Linked DNA regions of Homo sapiens: regions 1, 2 and 3 are each reported to be linked to region 4. Evidence: microRNA targets listed by miRTarBase, many of them from high-throughput screens and not tested one by one. Region 4 holds a microRNA gene; each other region holds the end of a gene's coding sequence. Distances are from middle to middle.
What was found. Region 4 holds the annotated microRNA hsa-miR-548f-5p (UGCAAAAGUAAUCACAGUUUUU, at 1,464-1,485, shown strand). A microRNA usually pairs through its seed, bases 2 to 8, with sites in the 3' UTR of a target mRNA and lowers its output. Matches are read on the target gene's strand: a 7mer-m8 pairs with bases 2 to 8, a 7mer-A1 pairs with bases 2 to 7 and ends in A, and an 8mer does both.

Region 1 (3,233 bases), 54 Mb from region 4:
GAGGGTTAGCCTCAGCTGGCCTCCAATTAAGAATCTATTCCATTCTGAGTTGTGTATCTGTTTTTCAGGCTGATTTGCAATAATTGATATGCAGCTGATATAATAATCATCCTCTCCTTATTATATCATGTATGGTCTTTTTGAGATCTGGTGAAAGTAAATTCAATTTATACGTTTAAGTGAACAAATGATGTTTAACACACTGATTTTATATAAAGTTAAGCAGTCACTAAAGAGTGACCCACAGTATGTGATCAACATTTAGCGACGGTAGTATTTGGTTGGGTATAGGGGACTACACTAAATAAACAAATTACTAAAGCTAGTTTTTTTTAAATACATTTATTAACCAATGTTAACACATTAAATGAATCTATATATTGCTAGTCAGAGCAGCTTACAAAATGCCAGAATGCATCATAGAACTGGACAGCCACAATGAATAATTACAATGTGCATAGTGGCTAAGCTCAACACCTCGATATAGCTTTATGATTTGCAGAAAATTTTTAATAATGATTCCTAAAACAATCAATTGTAATTTTACCTAAAACTTTTACAAAACCAGGCCACAATCTCTTTTTTTAATTTTGTTTTTTTTTAAACACACAGTTTTCACGCTGTAGTAACTTGGAAATGTGCAACCGTGTCAACAGAGACAGAAAAGCCAAAGTAACACGAATCTCACTTTCATGCAGCTATCAGTTAAATATTACATACTCTGGAATGATTTTACACCAAAAATATTTCCACAATTACTTGCTCTCATAGGGGTGGATCGAAGTCTTAAAACTTGAAAAACAATCAAAGAAGGTTAAGTGTTCTCGGTTCTGACATCTCCATCAGCGCCACACACTGTGGCAACACTGACTAATTACACAGCAACAAGGAGGGAACGATGATGCCAAGTTACTGCATAATTTAGGTACATTGTATGAAATGGGGCTACTGGGTACTTTTTACAAAATATTGTGCACCATTTGGCAGTAGTTTGTCAATTAACTTGTGTCACCACCATCTGCAACAGCATCAAGATTAGATGGATGATATTTCACAGAAGACTTAGTTACATTTTTATCTTTAGAGTGACCCTGACAAACCTGGAGAATACTTTTTAAAAGGCTTTTCTCCTGATTCTTTCACTTCCATTGTGAGTAATTGCTTTAATAAATATCAAAGGTCTAAATAAATATGTACAAATTATTCTCTAACCTCAAAAAATAACTAAATGATAAATGGGAATTTGACTTGGTCTAAGATCAGTCTTTAAAAATACCACATAAATTGTGAGATATTTTAAAAGAAAAGTAATTTAAGTTTTCCTGGCTGTATTTTATATATCTATGTATAAAAAATCATTATTCAACTATCGATCCATTCCTATTGGTAATGCTTCTTAATCCAGACATTCCGCAAAATACAGACTTTTTACAAATCACGGCATCTTTAATACAAGAAAATTAACATGCATTATTCTTCATTCTGTGTACAGTGATGGAGTTCATTAGTAGGCAATGACCCATTACTACAAACATAACGGCTTCTGTGAAACTTAAGTGCTTTCTCTTCTTTTAGTATTAACTTACGATACATGAGGTGACACCAGATAATAGGCAGTGAGATGATATGTGGGAAGGGAAGGGAAGCATTAAACAAATTCGTATGCCTCATCTATAATTTCACATATGGATAAAGGTAGTTTTTGGCTTTGTTTTTGTTGTTTATTTTGTTACAAGCACTCATGTTAGGACAAAGATGAAATGTGCAAACTTTAAAATTTAAATATTCATTTTCTCTAAGATCCAGCTCAGTAAAAGATTACCCCAGTTCCCTGCAATTTTAAACTACAAGATCAAAGCTAATAATTTGTTATAAAAGTTATATATTGAAAAGAAATAATGAAAAACACAATTGGGAAATATTTAAGAAAAAATATGCAGGACTAGCCCTGCTGTGTCAACCCTGTTCCCTAAATTCAATCATATACCCACTGGTGTGACCAACAGATAATGCCTTTGAACAGTAAATTAAGCTGAACAAAACCAGCTCAACAAGGTTAAGAAAAAAATGTCACATCAAGGTAGTATGTTTTATTTCTGAAACAGTTCTGTAGTTCTTACATTCAGATCTATTCTAAATGTTTCTTTGTTAAACTCACTTGTATTCACCTGTTTTTTAAAGATCTGTTGTTTAAAGGTTAAAATCTCTGTAAAACCTAAAAATGTTTTAAAATTTGCTGAAAATGCAACAAATTCTCAATTAAAATTTATTTAAAATAATACCCTCCACTGATGTTACTTTTACCCCCTGAAAAACTTCGGAGGAGCATTAACAAAAGATTTAAACTACTGTGCAAAATTTCTTCACGAAAAGTGTTTAAAGGCTGGTGCAAAATGGGAAGCAAATTCTAAACAATTTTGGCTTCTTGGAAACAAAAACCGCTGTGTCTGAAAAGAGTAATCATCGGGGTGACTCCGGGAAGGGCCAGCTTCATCTTTTCCGGCGGCAGGTGCGCTTGTGCTCCGCGTGCCAGTGCTCCTGCTGGCACTTGATGGAGCAGTAGGATGTGTTCCAGCAGCAGTGGTACATGGCCTCCTCCTCACAGTTGTAGCACTGCAGGTAAGAAATCGGGGCAGTCTTTAGACTTGGGTGTGGATGTGTAAGCGACTGGTTAAAATGGCAAACTCTTGAGGTGGTGCTTTTAAAAGATCTTTCTGGCTCAACCTTTTGTGGAATCTGAATACGTTTTATGCACAGCAGATGGAAAGGGAGCCCTGGGGATGACTGCAGCTCATGCCTGGTTGTCAGCAAACTCAAGCTGCTGTCAGGTGGTACCTGACACCTCCCGTTTTTTCCATCTCTGTGAGAGTCATTCCCGTTTCTTTTCTTAAAATGCTCTTGACTTCACATCCCTTTCCAGCTACCACTTGCATTTCTCTGCTCCCCACAAGCTCCTTGAAAGACTTGCCTAAACTCCCTATTTCAAATTCTTCTCTCGTCGTTAACATACGCTGCAGTCTTTACTCATACCATGCCACTAATATGCTGCTAGCAGGGTCACTTACAACTTCAAATCTAGTGGCCAAGTCTCAGTCTTCATCTTATTTGGCAATGTCTGGAGATATTTTTGACTGTCACAACTTAAGGGCAGAAGGTACTACTGGCAGACAGAGGCCTGGGATGCTGTTAAACATCCCACCATGTACACCTCCCCCAAAGAATGTTCTAGTGCA
Region 2 (3,246 bases), not on the chromosome of region 4:
AAATAATAAAATATTCTCTATTTCAAAAAATGGGGAAAAAATGTCTTTAAACTATGTCAAAAGTTTGCCATCCTGAAAAAAGATCTTTCCTGAACAGGGATATCTGCAGATACCTGAACAGGAAAAATGATGTGACTAAACCAGTAAGCCAGGAAATTTGAAGGTCTTCAGCCTTGTTACCTTCCAGGATTTTTTCTCCTTTTTAGTACTCAACATAATTTTGATGGTCTATATAAAACTAGAATAAATCTAAATGTAAAAGTCTAACGAAAGCTGATTTTCTTTAATAATAAACAGTGAATATCATGAGAAAAACCACTTTAAAGCTACCTCTCTTCTTTTTTTCATTTTTTAGAGATGGGATCTCACTCTATCCCCAGGCTGGTGTGCAGTGGTGTGATCGTAGCGCACTGCAGCCTCCAACTCCTGGGCTCAAGTGATGTTCCCACCTCACCTCCAGGTAGCTAGGACTCACAGGCTCTCACACCACCATACCCAGCTTGGGTCTCTTCTTGAACTAAACATTTTTATTTTATAAGCGCTAATTTAAAGTCAGTAAGAGCCCCCATTTAATTACAAACTTCAATAGTTACCCAGAAAAAGAAATAGTCTTTAAAATCATTTTGATAACAACTGTTTAATTTACTATTCAGATGGAAAGCCTGGTAGGATATTTGGGTAATGGTCTGTAATTAGGTAGCATAACTTTGTACACATGAATCAACTGGGACCCGATACAATCTAAAACAGAAATTCAAATATATTTTCCCTCAATGAAAAGGGCTGAGGAAGTCCTCCAAAATGTGGAGACATTTCAAGTCTACATCAACACACATCTGGACCTGTGCAGCATTCATTTAATTCTAAAAGAAGAGGCATACTGCTCAGAAAAGGGGCAGAGATTTCCCAGTCATCTTGCTTATTAAAACGGTTTAGATAAACCACACTTTTAGCTAGATGTACACTAGACAGCAATGTTTTAACAAGTCTAAAACACTATACAGGTTTTAAAATACTATGATAACAACTCAGTCATCATTGCAAAAAGGCATTCAACATGAATAAAATGTTTGAGGAAACTGATGTTTACCTCTTTTAATACCAAAGCTTTTTAAAAAGTTTTAATCAATTTAAGATAAAACTTTTAAAATATGTACTACATATCTGTGTATGCAATTTCACCTTTACTTAATTACCTAGAGGCATAATAAAGAATAATCATCAGATGATGTAGTATAGTGATGTCCTCTAGGCTGGGTAGCGGTCCTTACACTAATGGCCTTGGACAGTGTATGCTCTCAGAGTGTTTTTCAGTCTCCTTCCTTTCAAGCCATCCCTTCTAAACAGCTAATATGCTATAGTCTGGACAAGCAAATAATTAAATTTATTAAAATCTCTCATAAAAACAAATGCATAAGCTCTAACACACAGACTTTGTGACTTATATGGGTTGCTCAGAGGCATTTTTAAAAAAAACGATTCCAAGTTTCTGAGTTGTGTTCGGTTTTCACAAGACTGCCAGATTACCTCTAGATGAATGAGGCATTACTGTACATAGATACTTAAACAAGTTCATTTGAATATTAACAAAAAGATATAACTAAACTTATTATCTTTTCCTTTAAAACAAAGTATTCCGTAACTTTAAGGTAACACTGAGTTCCAGTTTCTTTCCCCCAAAAAACAAACATAAACAAATATCCTATAGATAATATCAGTTTGCCCAAAAAAAGAAAGAAAAAAACTGAGGTGCAATAATGTCACAGTTAATGCATGTCTACTTCCAATACATTCAAAGACAATTTTTTTTAAAAAAAATCAATAGTTAAAATAGGCCTTTTGCAGTCTGAGAATTCAAGATACTTAGAAAAATTTGTAAATACACATACATGCAAATTCTTCATATATACAAATTTCACAAAATTAATAAGCTGCAAAGAAATTAGTAGGATTATGGTAAATCTGACAAGCTACATTTAAATGCTTTACCACTGGCATATTCCTGAATGTAGCAGTCATAGTAGTTTTAATAAATTTTCTACATGGCCTTTTTATAAAAAGTCACTAAGAAGTCTTTTAAGAATTCAAGATGTTCTCAATTCACTACTCATATTTAAGGCCACTTTGGTAAAGGCATTGCAGCAAGAACACAAAAACAATAGCATATTTTATAATATTTATTTTTTTTCACCTGCAAACTGTAGCAAAACATGATCAGCTTTATTATGCAGACAGGTATCCCTCTACATTTTAAAAGAATTTAGGCATGTATAAATAGAAGAGCTCTTTAGAAAGGAAAAATTCAAGAATGAATAAAACCTTCCAATTTTGACTCTGTTACTTTCCAGTAGCAATGGTTAAAATGATTTTAGGTCATTCATTCCAAGATATATGACAGCACCTTAAAAGTGGCTGATCTATTTCCCCAGTAACATTTCTCACATAACAATGTGTTAAAGTTACAAATACTGATATGCACAAATAGCTAATTTCTAAGAAAAATATGTACAGTACTGCAGCATAATGAATGTGGTATCTGCAATAACTTAATATTAGCCAATTTTAATATACATGATACCGCTACCCTTTTCTGCCAATTCACAGGTTAGAAGGTGTTACTGGAGCCCTCGGTTTTGCACATATTACCTGGTGTTTAATACACAATGCAGGCTTTTTAAAGACTTCTCTTGTGTTTAAAGCTAAGATCAGTGAAACAAGACAACAGTGCAAGAGGTGGAGAGATGTAATGTGACCACATAAAAGTTCGTTCCAGTAAATTGTCTATATAAGGCTATAAGAAAGGATTGGTTGATGAGCTTCCTGTTGGAAATTGTCCTGTTGGTGCACCAGTCTAAAGGAAAACATAAGACAAATAAATAAAGAGACAAAAGTAGTGCATGTACAAAATATAAAAACATTAAACTGAATTTAATTTTTTTAATTAGACTTTTTGGTTAAGAATTATTTTTTAAATTATTGGCAATAATATTTGTTATTGGCAATAAGCTATATCAAACTACTATGTGTCATGAACTGTGCTACGTCTTTCATATCCAGTACTTCAAACAGTTCTTGTAATAGATTCTAAGAAGAATCTTAGAATGGTCTTAGAAAAGCACGTGTGATTCAAACAAAACTTCTGACTCTTAAGACCTCTCTTTTATGTTCACTAATTCCTAGGGCCTCTCATAAAGTGTTATTTTGACAAGAAAGCAGATAAGTTTCATATTATAAAATAGCTGATCT
Region 3 (3,000 bases), not on the chromosome of region 4:
TGGGCCACCTGCTGAAGGAGAAGTACAACGCGGCCGTGCAGGTGGAGGTGGTGCGGGCCAGCCGTCTGCGGCAGCCCACCTTCCTGCGCATCAAACAGCTGCGCAGCTATCAGAAGCCCATGGAGACAGACCTGGTGTACATTGAGAAGTCGCCCAACTACTGCGAGGAGGACGCGGCCACGGGCAGCGTGGGCACGCAGGGCCGTCTCTGCAACCGCACGTCGCCCGGCGCGGACGGCTGTGACACCATGTGCTGCGGCCGAGGCTACAACACCCACCAGTACACCAAGGTGTGGCAGTGCAACTGCAAATTCCACTGGTGCTGCTTCGTCAAGTGCAACACCTGCAGCGAGCGCACCGAGGTCTTCACCTGCAAGTGAGGCCAGGCCCGGAGGCGGCCGCGGGCACCCTGGAACCCGGCGGCATTTTGCACATCCACTCCTCACCTTCCCTGCCTTGGTGCTGCCAGCAGCAGACATAGACGGGTGCAGAAGCGGGGAGCTCCAGGTGCAGGAGGGCACCGGCCGGGGCCCACGCCCTCTGCCCGCCTCCCTGGGGCTCCTTCCTGCCACCTCCTCCCATCACCTCCTGCGGCAGAACAGCACCCGTGACCCACCCAGAGAGCAAGGCCAGGGGTCTTGGTGCTCCCCGACGGGGCCCGGCAAGTTCTCTTTCTTCTCTCTGGGAAAATGAACGTCCAGGACACACCTGTATCCCAGAGAGCAAAGTGATGAGGAGACTGAGCGTCCCCAGCCCCACCTGGCGGCATGGACACAGAAAAGCTACGCCGGCTGGCCTCTCCAGACCAGTTCCCAGGCTGGGTCTGCCGCTGGGCCCTGGGGCGGTGGGGACAGATGTTGACACAAATTATTTATGTTTTCTTAGTATCAGAAGAGGATTCTCGGCACTAACACATAGCCAGTCCTAACTCCGTACTCTGTGTCAGCCCATCCCCTAGACACCCTCTGTTTCCTTTCCCGGCCCCACCTGGCCGGCCCTCTGCCCCTGCAGAGCTGAGGCAGCCTGGGGTTGATGGGGACCACGCGGTGCCTGCAGGTCCTAGAAGTGAGCTGGGCAGGGGCTCTTCAGACCACACAGCCCTGACCGGGCCTTGGAGGAGAGCCATGGACAGGCTCCTCCATGCCGTCTTTCCTTCTTTTGAAAATCCTATCAATGGCTGGGCGCGGTGGCTCACACCTGTAATCCCAGCACTTTGGGAGACCGAGGCAGGTGGATCACCTGAGGTCAGGAGTTCGAGACCAGCCTGGCCAACGTGGTGAAACCCTGTCTCTACTAAAAATACAAAAATTAGCTGGGCGTGGTGGCGTGCACCTGTAATCCCAGCTACTCAGGAGGCTGAGACAGGACACTTGCTTGAACCCGGGAGGTGGAGGTTGCAATGAGCCAAGATTGTGCCACTGTATTCCAACTTGGGTGACAGAGCACGACTCTGTCTCAAAAAAAGAAAAGAAAATAATATCAAGCAAATCAAAATATCACCCACGTCAGGTTCCAGGAGTCCTTCGTTCCCTCCCTCATCCTGTCACCCTCCCGGCCTGGCACCTCCAGTTTACAGAGACCCCCTTCCCCCTGGAGCCAGCCTGACCCCTGGGACAGTGCTGCCGCGGGGGTCAGGCAGGTGGTGAGTGGTCAGGGATGTTTGTCCCACTTGACAGATGGGAACTCTGAGGCCCAGAGTGGCACAAGGACCTACCAGAGACCCTGCAGCTGTGACTGGAGGCTTCCACCTTTCTCCTGCCCAGCCTGGGGCTCTGGACCTGGGAGAACACATCAGGATGCCCGGGGTGGCAGTAGGTAGCTCCCATGCCTTGAGGCACTTGGCTGCTCCCTCCACCCCCTGACAGCCTCATTGGGGCCTGCACTCCCCTCGGTGCCTTTGAGGCTTCGCCTAGCCCTGTCCTGGTCCTTTTACCCTGACCCCAGTGCTGAGAAAATCTGGATCCAGAGCTGGACATGTCCTTTCTGGATGCTCCCACCCCTGTCTCTGAGGAGCATGAGTGACAGAGGGAGGAACTTGTCCGAGGCCAGAGAGGATGGTCTGCAGCTGGCTCCTGGTGCACCCCCACTGCCCACGGCCTGGCCCCCATTTAGGGTGTGTTCTCTTGGAAGCCCGTAGGAATGTGTTCTTGAGCAGCCGACAAGCCAAGGGCCTGGGCTCAGCCTGGGGCAAGTGGGTCCCTCCTGGGCTCTGGCCCTGTGGTCCAGCCCATGTGCCTCTAACCATGCCTGGACGCTCTGAGTCTCCGGGCCACCGTGAATGCCCCACCCTCAGCCTGGCCCCATCCCCTTACCTTCCCCAAGTCCCAGAACACACCTGAGTCCATAGGCCCGGCAGCCTCTGCAAGGAACCTGGTTAACTTATGTTGTTATATAGCGTCGAAATGTCTATAGTGTCTTTAAATTATTGTGACCTACACTGGGTACCGGAGAGGGGGATGGCTGCGGCCCCCATCCCTCATCCCCCATCCCATCCCATCCCTCATCTCATCCCTCATCCCATCCCCCATCCCATCCCTGACCCCATCCCCCATCCCATCCCTCATCCCTATTCCCCATACCCACCCCCCATCCCATCCCCCATCTCCCGAACCAGGCTCCTCCTGCTTCAACAGACCCTTGGGGCCCCTGATGCCACCGAGACACTCGCACTGTCCCTTGGCTGCCGGGCACCCCACTGAGCCCCTGCCCACCCCAAAGTCTGCCAGCAACAGGCCCTTTGCCTGGGTGAGACGGGGGTCAGGGTGGCCCAGATGGGGGTGATGGCGACCAAGGTGCTGCGTCCCCACCCTTCTGACGGCAGCCTCCCCTGGAGGGGAGTGCTCGGCCCAATAAAAGCTGGAATCGGAAAAGTGAGTGTGTGTGGAATCCCCATGCGATGTACCTGCAGCTGCGGCCCCACCGGTGGGGACACATGCTCTGCCCACCCAGGACGAGCCCCCGAGGCCTTCATGTGCCCCCAGCTGTCTGGCTTCCTCCTGC
Region 4 (3,246 bases):
GAGCAGTATACTACAAATGCCTTTTCCTGAGACATTGGTGTGGAATATCTTTAACACAGAATTTTTTCCTAAGAAACATTCCTTTACTTGTGTGCAAGTTTATGAGCCTACATGTTCCTCTCCTGAGTAATTTATGTAGAATACATAACATTTGAAATGTATTTATGATATTTGACTATTATAATGAATATCTGCCTTCAGGTCAGACATTACCAAAAATTTTCATTTTTAAAAAATGAGCAAAAACAGTAGTGCTCATTTATATTTTCCAAATGTCTTCATAATTGAGTATACTGACAATTCAATAGTCAAATTTTAATAATTGTTGCAGTCAACGTTTTGTTTCACATTGAATAATTTTTTATTGTACCTTTCAGGGAAACATTATTCGTGCGCTTGTAGTGCGTGATTATCATTCATGTTGCTTCTAATAATATTTTGCTCACATACATCTTATAGATTGAGTACAGAGTCTAAAAATTTGGGTATGATTATACTACTTCAGAATATATTTTCATTTCCCAAATGTTATTGACTCTTAAAATTTCTAGCTAGGGACTGATTTTTTTTTCTCATTTCTTCTTCTTCTTCTTTTTTTAATGGAGAATAATATAATAGCTGTGGAAAACAAATGACTGTATTTTACTAAACTACACTAAACAAGCCAAGACACCCTTAATTTAATTCAATGTGAAAGTCAGAATTGTAAGAGAGCATAAATCTTGACTTCTTGACGAATATTACCAGACTAAGTCACATCATTTTGTTTGATGACTTTCTCCTTTTTGTATTTTTTATTTTGTTAAGAGAGGGTCTCTGTCACCCAGGCTGGAGTGCAGTGGCATGATCACAGATCACTGCAGCCTAGATATCCTGGGTTCAATCTATCCGCCCACCTCAGCCTCCAGAGTAGCTGAAACTATAGGCGTGTGTCACCACACCCAGATAATTATTATTATTATTATCTGTAGTGATGAGGTTTCACTAAACTGCCCAGGCGGGTCTCAAACTCCCGAGTTGAAGCGTTTCTCCCACATCAGCCTCTCTAAGTGGCTGGACTATAGGTGTACCCCACCATGTCCGCTATTTTTTCTTTTTTTTTTTTGGTAGAGATAAGTTTTTGTCATGTTGCCCATGCTCGTCCTAAACTCCTGGGCTCAAGCAATCCAGCCACCTCGGCCTCCCACAGTGCTGGGATTACAGTTGTGAGCCACCACACCTGGCCTCTCCTTTTATTGAGCGAAGTGTTTGCATACAAATCCCCTGGGATTTTTTTGCTCGGAAATCCCCTCAGGGCTATGCCTAGTCCTCTTTTTGGCTCTATCACTTTTACTGTATTTGTCAAAGAAAAGTATTTCAAGTTAAAATATTATTTTGAAAAATTCCTTATGTGTGCAAGTCTTCTCACAATAACCAAAATGATGTAGGCAAAGCCTTTCCAAAGTGCGGAAGTATTAGGTTGGTGCAAAAGTAATCACAGTTTTTGACATTACTTTCAAAGACAAAAACTGTAATTACTTTTGGACCAACCTAATAGCCTGATTAGCAGTGTCTTGCTCACAGTAGGCCTCATGGCATCATATCTCTTCCTTACCATCATTCTTCATATATCTATAAAAATTCTTTGTAGTAGACAGTAAAAGCCTTAAAGTTACCATTGATTTATTGAGCAATCTAATATTTTTTCTAATAAATATATTAAGATAATATAAATTTTAAAATCTCCATTACCCTCTAGTCTATTATATTTTCTTACTGATTGAATCGTTATGCTAAGGCAATTCTAATCGTAAGGACTATGGGTTGATTTCTACTCTTAACCTGAAACAAGAATAAATTTGTCATGCAGACAAATTTGCATAATGTTCAAAACATAAACATATGCCAGGAATTGAGAGGTCTCTGAGGGCAGGGACCTGGATTTCCTGTATGCCTTTCCTTCTCTTCTCTCTAGTCTACTGCCATTCTTTAATATTTTTCCATATTTAATAATGCCACATGTTATCATATATTGGGTAGTGGGCAGGGATATGGAGAAAATCATATTTTTGCCCCAGAATCCTCTACCAAGAATATTATTAAATTTAGAAGATTTTATATCACATTATTGTTTACCACATTTATTGCACATAAACTCAATTTTAAATCTTATAATTATCTTTTGACTAGTTCAGATATATTTAATTATTGTATTTTCTTTATGTAAAAAGTATTGTTATTAAATGTAAACATATAAAACAACTCATTTTCACAAATAATTTTTAGCATTTTAATTTTTTAAAATTGCAATAAATATTAAGTATAAGTTACTTTGACAACTAAAAGACCTTTATTACTTATGTTAATAAATCTTTCTAGCCACCTGAAATTAGTATATCTTTTCAAAAAATTCACTATATTTTTATGTGTATTTGCAGCCACTCACCATTTAGCCTTTGTTTTATGACTCTAGGGAATTCTTCATTAAAAGCTTTAGAATAGTCAGAATGTGAAACAGAAGACAGATCTATATAAGGCTCTTCCTCTCTCATCCTTCTGTTAGGAATTCTGCCACACTTTTGGTTTCTGATGGGTTTGATGTGACTTGGCCTTAAGTTTGGGCCATCCTTTAAACAATTAATCTGTGTTCTCTGCCACATGCTTCCAAACAAGTGTAGCTTGACTTCTTATCTTTTATGATATCTGAAAACCCTTCAGCCTACAGAGACACATACACTTAGTCTTTTGGTTGCTGATTCCAGTTGAGGACAATACTAATTTTTCTAGCCTGCATCCGAACTGGCATCTTTCCACAATCTTGATCCTGACCCATTGCTTCCATGTCCAAGACAGCACAAAATTCTAAAATTTTTATTTTGTTTTATTTAGTTTCCTTCTCTCTTTCTGATAGCAAGAAGGACACAAACTAGAGAAGCATCTTTGGGCAGTATGTGAAGCCTGCTCAAAGGAGTTGTAATCATTCTCATATATCTCAAAACTGAAGATAATTCTTGTCCTCTATGAAGGGTTTCTAGTAGCTGCTTTGAGAGTTCTTAGTTTCCTTTCTTTGTATTCTCATCCATGGCAGACATTCTTTGGCAGCAATTCTCACCTCTCAGGAAATAGAATCATCACTACTGTGGCCAGCTACTACAGACAAACTAAGGTACATTGAGAAAAAATGCCCAAACAAATGGGTTCTTCCCATATCTCCTCCACTTCACCTCCTCATTCACCAACTAGCTACAACAACAAAGCCCAGTTCCC

Region 1: miRTarBase lists ZMYND11 as a target of hsa-miR-548f-5p. Seed matches in the 3' UTR shown: 7mer-A1 at 2,388-2,394 and 7mer-A1 at 2,352-2,358.
Region 2: miRTarBase lists AGFG1 as a target of hsa-miR-548f-5p. Seed matches in the 3' UTR shown: 7mer-A1 at 1,040-1,046.
Region 3: the mRNA of WNT7B is a reported target of hsa-miR-548f-5p. Seed matches in the 3' UTR shown: 7mer-A1 at 426-432.

Annotation. Positions count from the first base shown.
Region 1 is chr10:251,728-254,960 of GRCh38, reverse strand. It overlaps ZMYND11 (zinc finger MYND-type containing 11), which reads right to left. Exons shown (of 15, transcript NM_001370100.5): 15 at 324-2,613. The coding sequence ends at 2,491. Among named protein-coding and RNA genes, the nearest start is that of ZMYND11, 120 kb to the right of the region's middle.
Region 2 is chr2:227,554,041-227,557,286 of GRCh38, reverse strand. It overlaps AGFG1 (ArfGAP with FG repeats 1), which reads right to left. Exons shown (of 13, transcript NM_004504.5): 13 at 1-2,851. The coding sequence ends at 2,792. Among named protein-coding and RNA genes, the nearest start is that of SCYGR2, 43 kb to the left of the region's middle.
Region 3 is chr22:45,920,236-45,923,235 of GRCh38, reverse strand. WNT7B (Wnt family member 7B) reads left to right here. Exons shown (of 4, transcript NM_058238.3): 4 at 1-2,870. The coding sequence ends at 380. Among named protein-coding and RNA genes, the nearest start is that of WNT7B, 55 kb to the left of the region's middle.
Region 4 is chr10:54,606,165-54,609,410 of GRCh38, reverse strand. It overlaps MIR548F1 (microRNA 548f-1), which reads left to right and starts at 1,454; the gene lies at 1,454-1,537. All of the region lies in intron 2 of PCDH15 (protocadherin related 15), which reads left to right. It overlaps LOC105378311 (a long non-coding RNA gene), which reads right to left. Exons shown (of 6, transcript NR_134503.1): 3 at 2,426-3,246.